Linked DNA regions of Homo sapiens. The protein of the gene in region 4 interacts with the protein of the main gene of each other region in a pairwise test. Each region holds a gene or a part of one and is shown on either strand. Other genes may lie near its edges.

Region 1 (4,984 bases), on a different chromosome or scaffold from region 4:
TGTCACCCAGGCTGGAGTGCAGTGGAGCCATCTTGGCTCACTGCAACCTCCGCCTCCCGGGTTCAAGCGATTCTCCCACCTCAGCCTCCTGATTAGCTGGGATTACAGGCACCTGCCACCATACCCAACTAATTTTCATATTTAGTAGAGATGGGGTTTCACCGTGTTGGTCAGGCTGGTCTCGAATTCCTGACCTCAAGTGATCCTCCCGCCTTGGCCCCGCAAAGTGCTGGGATTATAGGCGTGAGCCACCACACCTGGGCCAAGTTCCTTTATAACAAGGATCAGCTTTCCTCCAGCGCCCAATAACTCAATAACATGTCCCTCATTTTCCTCTGAGGCTTAACCAAAAGCACCTTTTTTTTTTTTTTTTTTTTTTGGTAGAGACAGAGGTCTTACTCTGTTGCTCAGGCTGGAGTTCAGTGGTATCATCCCCGTGCACTGTAAGCTCAAACTCCTGGGCTCAAGCGATCCTCTCACCTCAGTCTCCCAAGTAGCTGCGACTACAGGCATGTGCCACCACACCCAGCTAATGTTTTATTTTTTATTATTTATTTTTTGAATGTATTGAGACAGGGTCTTGCTCTCTCACCCAGGCTGGAGGGCAGTGGCGCAATCATAGCTCAAGTGATTCTCCTGCCTCAGCCTCCTGAGTAGCTGGGATTACAGGCATGTACCACCACACCCAGCTTATTTTGTATTTTTTGTAGAGACGGGGTCTCACTATGTTGCCCAGGCTGGTCTTGATCACCTGGCCTCAAGTGATGCTCCTGCCTTGGCCTCCCAAGGTGCTGGGATCACATGCGTGAATCACCACACCCAACCCAAAAGCACCTTTAACATTCATGTTTCTAGCAACGTTCTGTTCTTGATGATATTTGTATTCTCTAAGACCACAGAGGCTGTCTCTATTGCTCTCCCCTCCTCTCACCAGAATTACCTTTAACATCCATACTCCTACCAACAGTCTCTTAAAGGCAATCCAGACCTTTTCTAACATGTACCTCAAACTTCTATAGCCTTGATATGGTTTAAATGTCATCTCTAAAACTCATGTTGAAATTTGTCAATGTATTGGTATTGAGAGGAGGGCCTTTTTGAGGTAGTTACGTCATGAGGGCTCTGCCCTCATGAATGGATGAATGCCACTATTATGGGTGAGTTAGTTACCTTGAAGTTCAGCCCCCTTTTTTCCTGCGTCTCATATGCTTGCTTCCACCTTCCACCTTTCTGCCACGGGATGACCCTCACCAGATGCCGGCGCCATGCTTTTGGACTTCCCAGCCTCCAGAACCATGAGCCAAATGAATCTGTTGTCTTTATAAATTACCCAGTCTGTGGTATTCTGTTATGGCAGCAGCAAATGGACTAAGACAAGCCTCTACTGACTACCCAGTTCCAAAGCCATTTCCACATTTTTAGGTATTTGTTACCTAAGCACCACACTTCCTGGTGCCAAAACCTGTATCCATTTCCTGGAACTGCCATTTCAACTGGGTGGCTTAAACAACAGAAATGGATTCTCTCCCCATTCTGAAAGCCAGAAGTCTGAAATCAAAGTGTCAGCAGGGCGTTACTCACCCTGAAAGTTCTACAGGAGGGTCCTTCCTGACCTCCCCAGGTTCCAGTGGCCCCAGGCATACCTTGGCCTCTGGCTGTGTCACTCCTGTCTCTTCCTCCACTGTACCATGGCTGTCTTCCCTCTGTGTGTCTTTGTCACTTCTGTTCTTATAAGGACATCAGTCATGTTGCATTAAGGACCCAACCTACTCCAGTATGACCCCATCTGAACTGCAAAGGCCCTATTTGCAAACATCACATTCTGAAGTACCACAGATTAGAACTTCAGCATACCTTGAGGGGACAGAATTCAACCCATAATAGAAGCCATCCTGCTCCAGTCCTCCCAACCAACCCCCATCAAAATCGGGAGACAGGCTGCACCCCCTGCCACACTACCCCCTGCCACACTGCCTTTGCTCAGGTTGGCCTCATCCATGCAGCTAGACCCCCAGCCTGACTTACTTCACCCCTGCTTTGTTCCTGGCTGTGCAGTGGCCCAGGCCAGCCCTCAGCATCCTTTCTTTTCTCCCACCAGTAACAGAAAATCCTTCTGTCTTGGGTCCCTGTGGCCTCACCAGTAGGACACAGAGTATGGAAGTGTCCCCAGCCTCGGCCTGAGCCACATCCCCCTACTTGTGTCCTGCTCTGCGGTCACTTGTTCTACCATGTGTGCTGGTCCTGACCTCCCCTTCAGATCTCAGGTGACCTCAGGGCCAGGCCCATGGATAACACCTGCTATCCCTGCCCAGCGCCACGGGCCAGGAAGTACAAGTGTGGCCTGCCCCAGCCGTGTCCTGAGGAGCACCTGGCCTTCCGCGTGGTCAGCGGGGCCGCCAACGTCATTGGGCCCAAGATCTGCCTCGAGGACAAGATGTGAGCTCCCTGGGGTGACTGGGGATCAGGGAGGGAGTGGGGGATCCAGGGCCGGGTCTGCAAGGGAGAGTGGAGCAGACGTGCCCATGTGGGATCTCCCCGTCCCCCCCACCCCCCCCCAACTAGGCTGATGAGCAGCGTCAAGGACAACGTGGGCCGCGGGCTGAACATCGCCCTGGTGAACGGTGAGGCCCCTGGCTGAGCGTGGCCTGCCGCCCTCCTTCCCTGCTCCCTCCCCAGGAGGCCTCTGGGTGTTTGCCCTCCCTTCCCCTCCCATTCAAGATCTCCCAGGGAGGCCTGGGAAGGAGTCTGTGCAAGCGCAAGGCTCCACAGAGGAGTGACCCAATGAACAAAAAAGCATGATGGCAATAAAGAACTAGGGAAGGTTCTGGGAGGTTGAGGGTGCTTCATGGAGAGCCCCCGGAGGGCCTCAAATGCCAGACAGAGGCACCACGGCTTGGGGTGGGATGCAGCTGCCTGAACAAATGGATGAATATTGGGGGACTGTTTGAAAGCTTCCAGAAGGGCTGCCCCCCACCCCCGGTGCTACCCGCCTGCCGTGCCCTGAGGCTGGCCTGGCTTACCCAGCAGGGCCCCTCCCTCCTGACACAGGGGTCAGCGGCGAGCTCATCGAGGCCCGGGCCTTTGACATGTGGGCCGGAGGTGAGTTGCAGCGCAGCGTCTTGCATTTTGACTGCAGCAAAATGACCTGGGCAGCTTCCCCTGAGACACTGCTCTCTCTGTCTGTACTTGGAGCTTCTCAGTCACCTCCGTGGGTTCAGAAAGGACAGGGGCATCGCCAGCTTGGTCTGGAGGCTGTGGGAGGTCACGGGGATGCCTCAGCTTCCTACACCAGCCTGTCCCTTGGCGGGGCATGTCCCAGGCCCAATCCCTACTTCTGTTTCCTTGTTTGGAGAACGGGCTTGTGGGAGGGTGCTCAGTGGTGCCTGATGACCCCTGTTCCGTGGCACCTGCCCCCCCAGATGTCAACGACCTGTTGAAGTTTATTCGGCCACTGCACGAAGGCACCCTGGTGTTCGTGGCATCCTACGACGACCCAGCCACCAAGTAGGTGCTTGGGGAGGCCAGCCTCAGCCTTGCCCTTCTGCAGCAACAGCTGACACCCCTTCCTCCCATGCTGCAGGATGAATGAAGAGACCAGAAAGCTCTTCAGTGAGCTGGGCAGCAGGAACGCCAAGGAGCTGGCCTTCCGGGACAGCTGGGTGTTTGTCGGGGCCAAGGGTGTGCAGAACAAGAGCCCCTTTGAGCAGGTATGGGGGGTGCCTGGCATCACCCCCACCGGGGCAGCCTGTCGCCCCTTCTGCCTGCATGCGACGAGCCTCCCCAGCTGCTCACGCCCCAGCAGGGGACCGTCCCCAGTCCAGCTATGAGGGGTGGGCCAGTGCAGCTGATGCCATGTTTCCCTGGGATGGGTGGAGGGGCCAAGTGCCCTGAGAGTACACCGTTGGCCAACACAGCACAGTTGACTGACAGCCTGGGTCCTGGTCCACTCCTGTCCCCTGTCCCTGAGGGCCAAAGTCATGACTTTCTGCTCCCCTCCCCACAGCACGTGAAGAACAGTAAGCACAGCAACAAGTACGAAGGCTGGCCCGAGGCGCTGGAGATGGAAGGCTGTATCCCGCGGAGAAGCACGGCCAGCTAGCACGGCCAGTGCCAGGACCGGGCCGAGGGAGGCCAGACCAAGGGAGGCACGCGCGCTGCCGGGCGGACAGAGGCTGAGGCTCACACCCCACACCCGGGCAGGAGCGCTCCCTGGCCCCAACACATCGGGGCTCCGAGGCAGTGACCAGAACGTGGTCTCAAGGTGGTGGGGGCTATGGGGGCTGCAGGGGGTAGCCCTGCCGCACTTTGTCACGGGAGCCCAGGGTACCCGCCTCCTTTTCGTAACACTGTTCCCCCCGGTCAGCCCATCTAGCCCTGTCCTCCATTCCTCACGCCATCTCCATCCCCATCTTGAGTCCTGGAACGGCCCTGGGTGCCTGCCCCTCACTGTGCATCTCTGGGAGCAGCCCGGCAGGTTGGGGCGTCTTCCAGAACCTCTCCCTTCTGGAGCCACTCTGCACTGCGGGCTAAACATGTTTCCAGTGTGATTCCTTCCAGTGAGCCAAACCCGGTGGCTGCTTCATGAGCCTGACTGCCTCTCGCCTGCTCTCAGCAGGAAGGGACCCCTGGAGCAGGCTGGCCCGGGGTGGTGAAGTAGCTGGAGCCCGATCACAGTCCCGCGGTTTGTCAGGGGGCCCACCTTCTAGATGACCCCTTAATAAAGTGATGGCCCCACAGAAGAAATGCCTTCAGATGCTGTTGTCAGTGCGGAGTCAGAGGTGGCGGTGTCCTCTGGGGTGCGGGAGGACAGATTCCAGAGTCTTAACCAACCTGCTCCCACAGCCCGAGCAGACAGCCTTTTGTCTCCAGGGCTCCTGCCACCAACAGGCCCCGCTGCGACTGAGATGTGACTCAAGCAGTCAACAGAGCAGTGGGACTCTTTTCGTCTGGCAGAGAAGATTGCACACTCGGGCTGCAGGAAGCT
Region 2 (4,224 bases), on a different chromosome or scaffold from region 4:
GGGGGAGGTCCCAGACTCTTTTTAAATAACCTGAAATCCTGTGAACAGAGTGAAAACTAACTTATTACCATGAAGAGCACACCAAGCCATTCATGAGGGGTATACCTTCATGACCCAAACGCTTTCCACCAGGTCCTACCTTCAACACTGGGGATCACATTTCAACATGAGATTTGGAGAGGACAAACATCCAAATCATATCACATATATAAATATGTAAAACTATTTTAAATGTTTTTAAAGTATCGAATAGAAATAAATCTCACAAAATATGCTTAAGAACTTTAAGCAAAAACCATAAAATACTATTGTGATAAGTTAAAGAAGACCTAAATAAATGGAGAGATCTGTCATGCTCATGGATTGGAAGATTCAATACTGTAATGATATGAATAGTTCCCAAATTGTTCTATAGATTCAAAACATTGCCAGTTAAAATCTCAGTGGACTTTGTTTTTTTGAAACTGACAAGCTGATTCTGCCATTTATAATAATATTCAAAGGGGCAAGAATAACCAAGACACATTTGAAGAAGAACAAGGAGGAAGAAGAACGTATTTGAAGAAGAATAAGGAACTCTATTAAGTGTATATCTCCTATATATTGAGATACACATTTGAAATACATCTATCACCTAGATATTGAGATATATTATACATTTAATATAGTGTGTTGCTGGTATAGGGATAGACAAATGAACATTGGATCAGAATAGCACTGAAACAAGATCTACCCCTATATGGGCATGTCCCTATTAACAAAAAAATATTGTTGATTATTTCCTCAAGATGATCTGTAAAAAACAAGTTAATTGAACATCCATATGGGAAAAAAGTGAATCCTTCTGCTACCTCAAATATCAACCCCAGGTAGATTATAGATCTAAAAGTGAAAGGCAAAGCAATAAAGATTTTAGAAAATAACAAAGAGAATATCTTTATGAAAATACAGGAAATATTTTAAAAATAGGCTAGAAAACTCACTATTAAAATATATAAAATATAAGAACATCTGTTCATCAAAAGTACTATAGTTTGAATAGCAGTGTCTCCTCCAAAATTCATATTGAAACTTAATCCCCATTGTAACAGTACTAATCCTAAAACTAAGTATTAAGAGGTGTGACCTGTGGGAAGTGACTAAGTCATGAGGGGTCTTTCCTCAGGTATGGGATTAGCATCCTTATAAAAGGCCTTGAGATGGAATGTAGTGCCCCCTTGCCCTCTTGCGTTCTCCCATGTGAGGACACAGCAACAAGGCACCATCTTGGAAGGAGAGAGAAGCCCTCACCAGACAACAGTGCACATGCCTTGATCTTAGACTTCCCAGCCTCCAGAGCTATAATAAATACATTTCTGTTCTTTATAAATTACTTGGTCTCTGGTATTTTGTTACAGAAGCACTAATGGACTAAGACAAAAAGATTCCATTATGAAAGTGAAAAGGCAACCGCAGAGTGGCAGAAGCTTTTGGAGATGATGAATATGTTTACTTCCTGGATTGCGGTGATGATACCATGAGTGTATACATATGTGTGTATACATAATGTATACAAATTGTGTTCATTGATTATGTACAGTTTCTTTGTATACCAATTATACCTTAATAAAGCTAAGGAAAAAAAAAAGAAAATCCAGAATAAATATGCATGGTATGACCCATTTATTTAAAAAAAAAAAGAGGGAATGCGAAGCAGTGGTTTTGGTGCGAACACAAAAATTCTGGCTTCAACAGCATTTAAATTCCCAAACCAAGCATGTTTGTGTTTTAATTCTTTGTGGCCATAAATTGTACAGCTCAGGCCTTTATAGTCTCTCAGATTCTGTGAATGTGGGGAATTAGTTTTACTCATAAAAAGTTTTGTTCTTGGGGATAAATTTTTTAAAAAAATTTTTGTATAGTTAGCACACTGAGAAAATACAGACAAAGGCATACAGATGCAAGAAATGAGGTAGCTGAATAGACCAAAGAATGATATAGGGCCCAGAAGGTAGGCAAAGAGAAAGTTGTTGGGTTTATGGTTACAAGTAAACTAGCAGTTGTGGTGCAGATAGTTTTATTTCCCCCACATTAATCTGAACAGCCCATCCAGACTTAAACACTGCTTTTTGCATTTACTTCTAGGCAGGAAGACAGGGTTCTGATGGTGTGAGTCTCCTTCAACTCAGCAAACCACCTTGGTCTGCCTCGAGTTTCCAACACCCCTCCTGCCTGCTAGTGATAGGTGTGAGGCAGGTTGATGAACATGGAACTTTTTTCTTTTGGTCCCAAAGCATGCTACTCCTGGAGTTTCATTCAGTGAATGAGAACTATAGTTTGGTTCTGTGAGATCTCTATGAATCAAGGCGGCCACTGAAGCGGAGAAAAGAAATGCTTAAATGTTAAGAAAGTTTGAAGTGCAGAAAAAGGTGATTGTAAATCCATATGGTTAAGCTTAGCCCATTTCTTAAAAGGCTTGATTGCTCATTCCTCCATTCATTGATTTACTCACTCTTCCAATCCATGTTATTGAGTCTTGCTCTGTAATTCCGGATGGTTGTGCTTTTAAGTACTGCATAGTGGTTGTATGTCTGTGTTAGCATTGCTGAATGTATCAGGGAATTCATTTTTTTATCCCCATTCATTCGTTCCATTCATCTGTTTCTCTCTCTCTCTCTCTTTGTGTGTGTGTGTGTGTGTGTGTGTGTGTGTGTGTGTGTGTGTGTTATGCCTAGAAAACATTTCTCAAGAATTAGAATTACGATATGCTGTCAAACACAATGACTTATTTGAACCTCTTTTATTTGTAGGTTGAAGCACTGGACAATGCCACATACTTTGTGGATGGTGTGGGTCTTGGGGGTCATCATCAGCCTCTCCAAGGAAGAATCCTCCAATCAGGCTTCTCTGTCTTGTGACCGCAATGGTATCTGCAAGGGCAGCTCAGGATCTTTAAACTCCATTCCCTCAGGGCTCACAGAAGCTGTAAAAAGCCTTGACCTGTCCAACAACAGGATCACCTACATTAGCAACAGTGACCTACAGAGGTGTGTGAACCTCCAGGCTCTGGTGCTGACATCCAATGGAATTAACACAATAGAGGAAGATTCTTTTTCTTCCCTGGGCAGTCTTGAACATTTAGACTTATCCTATAATTACTTATCTAATTTATCGTCTTCCTGGTTCAAGCCCCTTTCTTCTTTAACATTCTTAAACTTACTGGGAAATCCTTACAAAACCCTAGGGGAAACATCTCTTTTTTCTCATCTCACAAAATTGCAAATCCTGAGAGTGGGAAATATGGACACCTTCACTAAGATTCAAAGAAAAGATTTTGCTGGACTTACCTTCCTTGAGGAACTTGAGATTGATGCTTCAGATCTACAGAGCTATGAGCCAAAAAGTTTGAAGTCAATTCAGAATGTAAGTCATCTGATCCTTCATATGAAGCAGCATATTTTACTGCTGGAGATTTTTGTAGATGTTACAAGTTCCGTGGAATGTTTGGAACTGCGAGATACTGATTTGGACACTTTCCATTTTTCAGAACTATCCACTGGTGAAACAAATTCATTGATTAAAAAGTTTACATTTAGAAATGTGAAAATCACCGATGAAAGTTTGTTTCAGGTTATGAAACTTTTGAATCAGATTTCTGGATTGTTAGAATTAGAGTTTGATGACTGTACCCTTAATGGAGTTGGTAATTTTAGAGCATCTGATAATGACAGAGTTATAGATCCAGGTAAAGTGGAAACGTTAACAATCCGGAGGCTGCATATTCCAAGGTTTTACTTATTTTATGATCTGAGCACTTTATATTCACTTACAGAAAGAGTTAAAAGAATCACAGTAGAAAACAGTAAAGTTTTTCTGGTTCCTTGTTTACTTTCACAACATTTAAAATCATTAGAATACTTGGATCTCAGTGAAAATTTGATGGTTGAAGAATACTTGAAAAATTCAGCCTGTGAGGATGCCTGGCCCTCTCTACAAACTTTAATTTTAAGGCAAAATCATTTGGCATCATTGGAAAAAACCGGAGAGACTTTGCTCACTCTGAAAAACTTGACTAACATTGATATCAGTAAGAATAGTTTTCATTCTATGCCTGAAACTTGTCAGTGGCCAGAAAAGATGAAATATTTGAACTTATCCAGCACACGAATACACAGTGTAACAGGCTGCATTCCCAAGACACTGGAAATTTTAGATGTTAGCAACAACAATCTCAATTTATTTTCT
Region 3 (4,984 bases), on a different chromosome or scaffold from region 4:
ACTACTGAAGTTACTACAGTGATTTTTTTTTCACAAGGAAAAACAGAAAAACACTGAAAAGTAAAGGTTTCATTTAACCTTAAAGAAACCACAGCTTTCTGCTAGAGATATTCATCGTCAGGAGAAATTAGAAATTGACTTATAACTACATTTATACATGTTCCATTCTTCTGCAGCATTCAAAATTTTAAATACGGATACAGATGTAATGTTTATCCTCCTAGTGCAAAGCCAAGATTATAGCCAGATGGAAATCAGCTTTATCACCTCCCAACATCTGGCTCTCAACACACTGCCAAAGCAATATCACTTTAAATGTGGACCGAGAACCCAGAGTCCTAGTGCAGGCTCTAATGTAGCCCTGTGGTACGATCTAAAAGCTATATTGGTTGGGTGCAGTGGCTCACGCCTATAATCCCACCACTTTGGGAGGCCGAGGCAGGTGGATCACCTGAGGTCAGGAGATCGAGACAAGCCTGGCCAACACGGTAAAACCCTGTCTCTACAAAAACACAAAAAATTAGCCGGGTGTGGTAGCGGGTGCCTGTAATCCCAGCTACTTGGGAGGCTGAGGCAGGAGGATCCCTTGAACCTGGGAGGCGGAGGTTATAGTGAGCCGAGATCACGCCACTACACTCCAGCCTGGGCAACAAGAGTGAAACTCTGTCTCAAATAAATAAATGCCATATTATTGTCTTCCTGAATAACAGCTACTTGTACCATAAACACATCAAGGAGATTTTACCATATGCATTATAATAAAGTACATTTGAAAAGTATAGTCATGAAAGTATATACTTGACCTATATTTTGAAAATTCATGGACAAGTCCTACTTTCTAGAAAGAAAAAGCTCATAAATGTAGTACTGTACTAAGCCATAGAGTTTACTGGGAAACCTAGGATGATTACAGAATCATTCTGGCCCTTAACCTGGAAGCCACGCAGAGAAACTTCCAGTAAAATACCATGCTGACACTGCAGGTGCCTTTAAAGACACATTTCTAGGAAAGCTGGGCATTTAACAGGAAGGGAAAACAAGGTAGGAAAGTACTGTGGATCTTCCCAACTATTAATAGTATCATTTTTATTAAAATTGGACAGTCTCACCCCTTTTGTTGTTGCTCTAGGTATATACCCATCACCCCCTTTCTTACACATACACACACCCATAGACACATATACACACACTGACATCCTTTCACTGTACTTCTCCATTTAAATAGTGTTGGACCTAGAGGCTGCGTGCGGGCTCACACCTATAATCCCAACACTCTGGGAGGCCGAGGCAGGTGGATCACTTGAGGCTAGGAGTTTGAGACCAGCCTGGCCAACATAGTGAAATCCTGTCTCTACTGAAAATAAAAAAATTTAGCTGGGCATGGTGGCATGCTCTTGTAATCCAAGCTACACTGGAGGCTGAGGCAGGAGAATCGCTTGAACCAGGGGGGCAGAGGTTGCAGTGAGCTGAGATCGCACCACTGCACTCCAGCCTGGGTGACAGAGCAAGACTCCGTCTCAAAAAAAAAAAAAAAAAAAAGTAGTGTTGGACGTAGCAAATCTTCATATAGCATGAAAATACAACATATGTTTTATAAGTGGTCTTCAAAATGTTCTATCTGTTGAGATAATCTCTTTGGATAATGAGGATCTTACTCCTTGTCCAGCATTCCCATCTTCAAAAGCATCTCATGCACATGAATACTACGTACTTACCATTCTCAAGTACAACATCCACAGCCACAGTTGTCAGGTCTTTAGTACAAGCAGCCTGAATGTCCTCAGTTGGGGCAATGAATGTGCTGAGTCCAGTCATTTTGTTGACATAAACCATTCTTCCCAGGGCTACATCGAAATGCCGCTGCCAATCTGAACAACACGTGTTTGACTCTTCAGTTTCAGAACAAGCTCTTGCTTTAGATTCCTCACTCTGAAAACAAATTCCATTTTGGTCACCTGTGGCATCTTCTACCGGATTCATTAACATTCCACTGGGAGAGTCAAGACTTCCTATCTGTTGTTCTGAGGCTCTGATAAGAACATCTGAATCTTTACCGGTAACTTTAGAATTATTATAGGGCAATACCAAAGGAGTTTCTGATATCACACAGTTCTCTGTTGTATTGCTGTTAGAATGTGTTTTACTATTTTTATTAAAGGAATTATCCTGTGTGGCAGAATCTGATGTTGGGATGACACCATTCTCTGTTTTTTCATGCTTGTTGTTAAATAACATACAAAAATCTTGTGTTAACACACTGCACAACTTGCTGTCTTTCCTACTGGAATCTGAATTTGGAAGTTCATTAAAACGACTCATCATCCCCATTGTTTGAGTTTCTCTTTCGGAACCCTTCAGTCTGGATAATTTAGAGGCTAGTGATTCAGATGACTTCTCAAGGTCCAAAGGTTTTCTATTAAAGAGAGATAACTCCTTCAGGGTCATAGGACTTTCTCTCAAACTAGGCATCTGTTGTTCTAAACAATCTTCATCCTTGGAGAATGGAAACTTCTCTGAGTTAAGGATGTGGCTTGCTGGTTGACAACTACTATCTGAATCACTATGCTCCATAGTAGTGATTTTACAAACATCAGAGTTCTCTAAGCGGTTCTTGTCCTTCAGCAGAATGTCAGGTTCAACTTGAAGACTGAGATTGGTAGTGACTCCATTACTTTCCTCTACTTCTGTATCCAGAGGATTTTCAACCTTCCCATATTGCCTCTTAAACTTCTCTAAAGATCCTAGCTGTGAACTCAAGCTTAGCTTCTTACGGACGATTGGTTTGGAGAAACCAATTAATTTATCTGTTTTCCTACTATCATTGGAAACGTGTCTATACCAGGGGAAAGAGGGGGATGTATCAGATAATATGCAATCTGTTTGTGATTTTTTGCTACCTTCCTGAAAAGCAGAAAACATTGTATAAGTTGCTGTAGGTTCATTCTCTAGCCCATAACTTATATTCGTTCTGCAATTTTTTTTGTTGGGCAATTGACCAGATTCTTTACTTAAAGTGCTGGCTAAATCTTTGATGTCTGGAGTTTCAACTGAATGACGTGTTCTATTTCCAAATGTTTCTTGGGCACGTGTGGGACCAGGTCTAACATAATTTTTAAATGAATGTTCTGTTTCAGTTGATTTAGTTTTTTCATTTTGTACTACATGAGTTATAAAGCCAGTGGAACATAATTTAACTCGCCCATAACTAAAAACATTTCTTCTTCCACAATTGCTAGATTCTTTTTTTTTCTCTTTCTCTGTCTGAGCACTATGTACTCCCCATAATGTTGTTGCAAAAGGCAGAGGCTGGCATCCCACTTCAGTAGCATCTTTAAATCTCTTTGGTTGATTCTGAATTCTATTATTTTTCAAGATGTTGGCAGCCATGCCATTAACAGTAGTACTTTCTTTCCATATTTCTAGATCCTGCCCACTCTCCTCAAAGTGACATGGTGTCTGAAAAGGGCTTAAAAACATTTCTAAACTGGTTCCACACGGATTTTCTAAAGAGCTATGTTCCAGGAAAGATTTTTTATGTTTCTCATTTTCTCCAGCTTCTGATGCTACAATTGTCTCTTGTTCTAACATCTTTGATTCTGAGCAAGAGCTGTCTTTGTTTTGTAAAGATGGCTCTGTCATTTTGCTATGGCCTGGACCACCTGATTCATAAATGTACAAAAATGCATCATTTGTATTTTTTCTGGTAGCTTCTGAATCCCTAGAACTCTGTGTGTTTACGTTTTCTGCAGTAGTTTTTCTTTTCACAGCTTTTGACTGCAAATTAAACATCTCATAGGAATCTAAAATATTATTACATGCTTCCTGGAAATTGCTCCTCTCATCGGAAGTCACACGCTTCTGAAGAGTAGCATCAAATAAACTAAAACCATTATCTTCACTAAATTCCTTAATATCCTCACCTGATAATTCCACAAATAATTTTTCTTGCTTTAAAAACATTTTCACTCCTTCCTGAATGCAAAACAAGAGAGTGTCCCAGTTCTGAAATTCAATCAGAGTTTTGGCTGGCTCCATGCACACATCATACTCACAGAATTGGCACTGCACATTAATTACATATATGCCATAGAGTTCTGGGGTAGACCGGTGCCGAAGACTTGAATTCATTTGCCTACTGGTGGGACCATTCTTTGGCTTGCATATAATACTTTCTTTCCTTAATAAAAAGTCAATGAGTTTATGTAGCTTTGTCCTTAAAACTAGTCTTTTGTTCACAAACAAAAACTGCATATTCTTGTTGTAATGTGCTTCAGAGCTGATATAGCCACTAAGCTCAAACTCTTTATATTTAAAACTTATTTCTCTTAGCTTTTGGGACTTTCCCAATCCATAAATTTGACAAAATCGGGAACATACGTCTTTGGTTTTAGGGAGCTGAAGAACCATGGAACCAGAAACATCATTTCTCAAAGAGAAAGAAATGGAAGGGTGCATGAGTGAGAGAGCTTCTATTCTCTGCCTAACCTTCTCAAACTCCAGTCTAGGGTCCATGCATTTCCTCCTTACAGGAAGCTGGTAAAATAGGTTATACACTGTTACAGTAGTCCCAGCGCTTGCTCTAGTCACATCAGCTTCACAAGCTTTCAGGGCTTTTCCACTCTGAAACAGTTTCACAAAAGTTTTCATTGTCCTGTTTTTCTTGGACGAAATTTCCACAGCACTGGCCATGTCAGCAATATTTGCCAAGGCCTCTCCTCGGAAACCATAAAACCTTGGATTCTCCAAGTCCTGTACCGAGTGGCATTTACTGGTGAAATAACGATTTCCCACTTTCTCTACATCATCACTCCCCATCCCAAATCCATTGTCTATCACTTGAACTTGGAAGGTTTCCATATTCACCCTGACAGCCACACATTTTGCTTCAGCATCAATACTGTTGAGGGCAAGTTCCTCAACACATTGGCCCAAGGAGCTTATGGCCAAACCAGAACGCAATTTGGCTTGTACTTCAACTGACAAG
Region 4 (5,908 bases):
ACAAACAACAATGCAGAAACTTCTACCATAAATATCCTGCAAAAACACCCATATATACAGGCAGCCTCTTACTTAGACCTAGATCATAGTTATAAAAAGATAAAAACTGATTAAGCCTTCAGTAACAATATACTGACAGGTTCAAAGATGGAATATTATTCCATGGGTATAAACACTTACGCTCTTTGTTTTTCCAGAAACAGAAACTATACTTTTTAAGATATAAGTGAAGTAAGCGTATTCCCCTTATTTCTTTTCTCCAGCCTGTTCCCCAAAGGGCAGCTTTTATCTAAATGCAAATGCAGAATGAAGACACTCTTTAGGCTGGGTCTACCTTAAGGCCCAGAAGATGACCCCTGGAAAAGAGGAAAGCTTTATGTTTCCTATCAAGACCACTAAGAGATTCTGGCTAGAGGTTTCTGCACCAACGCACTTTCCAACTCTGGTTTTAGTAATCTTTGCCAAGATTATCTTGACACTGGGAAAAAAAATCAGGATGCAAGAGTCCTTAATTCAAAACAAAGATCAATCTGGATTGCACTTGAGAAAGATGTTTCTAGCAGAGAACTGCTACATAATAAATTAAATTGCATTTTCAGGCTACACAGTCTCTTTTTCAGAATTTAAGTCCATCCAAGAGTATCACATCTGGCCGGGCGCAGTGGCTGACGCCTGTAATCCCAGCACTTTGGGAGGCTGAAGTGGGCAGATCACCTGAGGTCTGGGGTTCAAGACCAGTCTGGCCAACAAGGTGAAACCCCCTCTACAAAAATACAAAAATTAGCCAGGCAAGATGGCGAGTGCCTGTAATCCCAGCTACTTGGGAGGCTAAGGCTGGAGAGTCGCTTGAACCTGGGAGGTGGAGGTGGCAGTTAGCCGAGATTTCGCCATTGCACTCCAGCCTGGGCAACAGAGTGAGACTCCATCTCAAAAACAGTATCACATCTGATGATTTGAACTTTTGAATATTGATTATTTAATAGTCTACATGCAGATCCACCACAATAATCCATATTGCCATTCTTGCTCTATGATCATCCTGAAACTTGCAACTTTTTAGCTCACTTTGATCTACTCACAGTGATGCAAATTACCATTTTAACTGCACCAACAAAGGCATTCTTTTAGTGAACCTACCATATTTAATAGCATTAATCAAGCATGTATACAGTAGGGAGATGCTGACAGTCTGAAAAGAGAAGAGGAGCTATTAACAGTGTCCTCATCCTCTCATACAAAATCCAATGATGCTACTCTAGTAATTGCTATCAATTATAGAGTACTTAATCATTTATTCTTTTTACCACCACTCTCCTTCCCCCATTTACAGAGAAGGAAACAGATTTCAAGTCAGCAATGCCCACAACATAGTAAGTGCCTAACCGCTTCTCACTACCCTGTCTACTTCCTCTTCAGAAGCCAGGCATCCTTTTTACTCTTTACATCCACTTACTTCTTCCTTCCTTCCACTTTTCTTTAGGTATCTCTGCCATTCTTCCCTTTTCTGATAAGAAATGGGCACATCTGAAAACTTAATAGGTCAACTCTGACAAAAGCTGGGCTCTGGAGACATATGCCGGGGGTTGAATCCTGGTTCACCTCTGCCACTCAGAACTTGTGCGACCTTGTGCGAGTCACTTAACTTCTCTGTGCCTCAGTTTCCCATAAAGTGGAGATAATAGTACCTACCTCATGAAGTTGTAGAGACTAGGGCTTGGAACATTATAAATGCCCAGAAAGTAACCTCTGGGTAAAGGGAATGGGAAATGTCAGTGACCTTTGCTGTTTACTTTACTTATATCTGTACTAAGTTTTTTACAACCATGTATTTATTCTGTATTAAAAAGCAACTAAACATAAAACCAACGAACCATTAAAATTTTAAAAAGGTCGACTGTCATCACCCACCAATGTAAACAGTATACTGCAATACAATTAAAATGTTCCCATTTAGCTTGGGAGAGTTTCTATAATTTTATCCAAAATAATCCAAAAACGTTATACAAAATACACCAATATGCCAAAAGTGAAGTGAAGAAGAATTAAGAGTTAGCCACACTGCCTCTCAGCTCACAGAGTGAAATCACCTCTTAAAGACATTTCTTTCAACTTGCAAAATTCCACTTGAACCACTGCAAGGCGTCATCAGAAAGTATCACAGGACTCAAATGCAGGTTAAAAAATGTTTTTGCTGGCTGGGCGTGGTGGCTCATGCCTGTAATCCCAACACTCCTGGGAGGTCAAGGCGGGCGGATCATCTAAGGTCAGGAGTTCAAGACAGCCTGGCCAACACAGTGAAACCCCATCTCTACTAAAAATACAAAAATAAGCCAGGCATGGTGGCGTGTGCCTGTAATCCCAGCAACTTGGGAGGCTGAGGCAGGAGAATTGCTTGAACCTGGGAGGCAGAAGTTGCAGTGAGCTGAGAATGTGCCACTGCACCCCAGCCTCGGTGAAAAAGGAGACTCCATCTCAAAAAGAAAAAGAAAAAAAAAGTCACCGCTAGACTAAGCTTCATGATGACAGGATCATGTATATTCTGGTTACCACTATATCACTGTGTAAGAGCCTACATAACTGCGGAATGAGGAAAAAAACGGTCACAGGTTTGTCAGCAATATTGTACAGAGGTTTGTGTCACAATTGTGGGGGACTAAGATGAAAACCTGGACATAAAAGGGACCAACTTTCTGATCACAGAGTATTTTTTAAGAAAGCACAGTGTGTGGATATATTATAAATCACTTTACAATCCTTCGTGTTGAACATTTGTGCTCAATTTTCCCTACTATAAATAATGCCATATCTTTACTTAAAATGTCTTCTGTATTTAGGACTGTGTTTTCAGAATCCATTGCTAAGTGAAAGAATACAAACATCTGAGTGTGTTATTAGTTAAGAGTTCTTTATTTAAAATGTCAACTTCTCTTTTAAATGAGTAGTTCATTTTAACTGCCACAAAATTATTTTCTGATTTATTTGACTGTTACTTTTTGTAACCTCTCGATTACGGAAATTCTGGCTATTTGCATTTATCTTGTTCTTGAGGATATCTTCTATTTTTTTTACCCTAAGTGAGGAAAAAATAAATACCCCAGCAGAAACACTAACGAAGGACAGACAAGCTCTAAAAGACACAAATAGCCAACACTAAAAAAAACTGTTCAAGGCCAGGTGCAGTGGCTAGTGCCTACAATCCCAGTATTTTGGGAGGCAGAAGTGGGAGGACCACCTGAGCCCAGGAGTCCAAGAGTCACCTGGGCAACATAGGGAGACCCTGTCTCTACAAAAAATAAATAATTATCTGGGCATGGTGGTGCATGCCTGTGGTCCGAGCTACTTGAGAGGCTGATGCAGGAGGATCACTTGAGCCCAGGAGGTCCAGGTTGCAGTGAGCCATTATCATGCCACTATGCTCCAGCTTGGGCCACAGAGACCCAGTTAAAAAAAAAAAAAGTTTGGCTGGGCACGGTGGCTCACGTCTATAATCCCAACCACTTTGGGAGGCTGAGGCGGGCAGATCACCTGAGGTCAGGAGTTTGAGACCAGCCTGGCCAACCTGGCGAAACCCCATCTCTACTAAAAATACAAAAAAATGTGCCGGGCATGGTGGTGTGCACCTGTAGTCCCAGCTACTCGGGAGGATGAGGCAGGAGAATGCTTGAACCCGCGAGGCGGAGGGTTGCAGTGAGCCAAGATTGCGCCACCGCACTCCAGCCTGGGCACCAGAGCAAGATTATGTCTCAAAAAAAAAAAAAAAAAAAAAAAGGTTCAACTGTAAGCAGTAAAAGTGCATATTAAAAATGAGGTATCATTCTACTCTTGTTGGAGGAGGGACAGCTCCTTCAAGAGAGATGGCTAGGATGGACACAGATGTAGGTGAGTTTGTTAAGTGAGAATGAGAAGTTCAGGAAATGAATACCTGAGACCTTTAATTGCCTCTACCAGTAAGAGGCAATAAGATATACTGGGATAAATAGGGCAGAGAGTTGTTGGGCTAGGCAGAAAAGGCAAGTCCCTTGACTTTTCCAGAAAGGCTGAGAATGTAAAGAAACATGCCACCCCAAGAACAGAACGCCAGAAGCATACTGAGAAGATGAGTCACTGGGGAATAAGCACAGAGGAGAATGGGAATTACTGCATAAAGCAGAGACCACTGGAGGGCCCCACTTAGGGCTGTACCCAAGGATAGCAGGTCTAAATGTTCCATCAGCCAACTTCAAGGTTGTTGAAAGTTCTTAACAGGACCTTGATGAAAGGTATTCTGAGCTCGGATATTGTTTCAATGGCAGAAAAGTGGCATTTGAGGTGCAGAAAAAGTGTATTTACATGTGCAACACACATACACAGGTGCACTCACACTCAGTGATAACTGAGTAGTTAGAATTTAGGGCTTATATACCTAACTTAGAAGAGGAAAGGACAGCAGGAGAAAAACCTTTTGGGAAGAACAGATTTCTTTAGGGAACACAAATGGTATTTTCAGAACAAATGAGAGATCAAGTTTACAATGTCTGTCTACATAGGTATGAGTGGTCTTTCTTTTCTTAGGGCCAAAAGACTACCCCTCCAACCCCTACCAGAGGTTTACTCTTGGCCTCTCTCCTGGGAACAGACTCACTCCAAAGGGAGAATTTATGTCAGCCCTCGTTTGTGACATGTATTTGCTTTTAGCCAGATAAACTCCAAGTAGGCTTCTCTCTGCATCTGTTGAATCTCAAATCTCTTCAGTTTAAAACAATCTTTATATCAACTCTGGGGTTCTCAGTGGATCTCCACAGAGGTAACTAAGCCTCATCTCTTTTCATTCCTTCCTGGGTATAGAGATCTAGACTGCCTTGCAAAGGAGATAACAGCTTTGGAAGAGTGTAGTTGAGACAGTGAGTGGAGCTGGGGTCAAGATGATCCCACAGCTTCCCAATCTAGATTCAGAATAAACCAGAGGTCCTAATCAAAGGAGAAAAGGCCCTAGTTTCTTCTTATATCTCAAATCCTCCCAGAGCTGCTATCTAATGAAGAAAGTTAGGCAGGCACTTGTTCATTTGTGCTTAAATCTGAGGGATCTATTTGATCCAAGAGTTAACTGGCCTTCTGCTTGAAGATGGACAGTTTAACTTTTGGGGCCAAATTCACTCCTCTTCTTCCCTCATGCTCCAATTAAACTTGCCTTTTCTCAAACACAAATTTAAGGTAAACACTTAAAAATGAAAAATCCATACTACCTCCTACTTAACTCATATTTGTTTTCTACAGTTACCAGCAAACAGTAGTTTCCTACTACTTTTTCATTGAAAAATTTGAACTATATTGCAGCCAAATACCTTTTCAGATCTGACTGGAGGATATAACAATGATTTATAACACTACCTCTATGAAAAACAAAACACATTTTAAGTTCTAAATGGCAAAATGCCTATGAGGTCCTTCTTTAAGTTATGATGAGTCTAGGTCATGGGAATATCCCTGGGGATTGGAGCTGGGGGCCACAGGAGATGGAAACATTTTTTTTCCTTTCATTCTCTTCAATTTGCTCATTTGCCACTCCCCTAGCTATTATGAAAAAAGATCAACTTTACCTAACTGGTGGGGCGATGCTCTCCAATTATACCAGCTGTCTCTGCCATAAAAGGAGGAAAGGGTATGGAGGAATTAAAGATCTTTCTGAGTTGTCAATTCTTTTAATTAGAACAATACTGGTTATTATGGTAAGTGAAATAATCCCAAAATATAGAAAGTAATTCCTGCCATCCTTGCAATTTCCATTCTTCTGAGTTAACCAGTATTCAAATCTTCTACCCATTATTTTAAAATAATGTTTCTAAATTAATAGAACTTTTTATTATTTTATTTTTATTTTTGAGATGGAGTCTCGCTCTTTTGCCTATGCTGGAGTGAAGTGGTGTTATCT

What was found. Proteins that work in one complex are often made in the same cells at the same time.
Region 1: the proteins of ANP32B (region 4) and FAM3A interact in a two-hybrid assay, tested with the Homo sapiens proteins (one large-scale study listed by BioGRID).
Region 2: the proteins of ANP32B (region 4) and TLR2 interact in a two-hybrid assay, tested with the Homo sapiens proteins (one large-scale study listed by BioGRID and IntAct).
Region 3: the proteins of ANP32B (region 4) and MLH3 interact in a two-hybrid assay, tested with the Homo sapiens proteins (one large-scale study listed by BioGRID and IntAct).

Annotation. Positions count from the first base shown.
Region 1 is NC_000023.11:154,505,926-154,510,909, reverse strand, and holds the end of FAM3A (protein FAM3A isoform 1 precursor), read left to right. Parts: intron 1-2,257; exon of another isoform or gene 2,258-2,284; coding exon of another isoform or gene 2,285-2,312; coding exon 2,313-2,436; intron 2,437-2,562; coding exon 2,563-2,621; intron 2,622-3,024; coding exon of another isoform or gene 3,025-3,048; coding exon 3,049-3,099; intron 3,100-3,419; coding exon 3,420-3,504; intron 3,505-3,580; coding exon 3,581-3,707; intron 3,708-4,003; coding exon 4,004-4,099; 3' UTR 4,100-4,739; downstream 4,740-4,984. UniProt on the Homo sapiens protein: May act as a defensin against invading fungal microorganisms.
Region 2 is NC_000004.12:153,700,103-153,704,326, forward strand, and holds part of TLR2 (toll-like receptor 2 precursor), read left to right. Parts: intron 1-2,124; exon of another isoform or gene 2,125-2,789; 5' UTR 2,790-2,805; coding exon 2,806-4,224. UniProt on the Homo sapiens protein: Cooperates with LY96 to mediate the innate immune response to bacterial lipoproteins and other microbial cell wall components. Cooperates with TLR1 or TLR6 to mediate the innate immune response to bacterial lipoproteins or lipopeptides.
Region 3 is NC_000014.9:75,044,661-75,049,644, forward strand, and holds part of MLH3 (DNA mismatch repair protein Mlh3), read right to left. Parts: coding exon 1,716-4,984; intron 1-1,715. UniProt on the Homo sapiens protein: Probably involved in the repair of mismatches in DNA.
Region 4 is NC_000009.12:97,988,675-97,994,582, reverse strand, and holds part of ANP32B (acidic leucine-rich nuclear phosphoprotein 32 family member B), read right to left. Parts: intron 5,618-5,908; exon of another isoform or gene 2,889-5,617; intron 1-2,888. UniProt on the Homo sapiens protein: Multifunctional protein that is involved in the regulation of many processes including cell proliferation, apoptosis, cell cycle progression or transcription.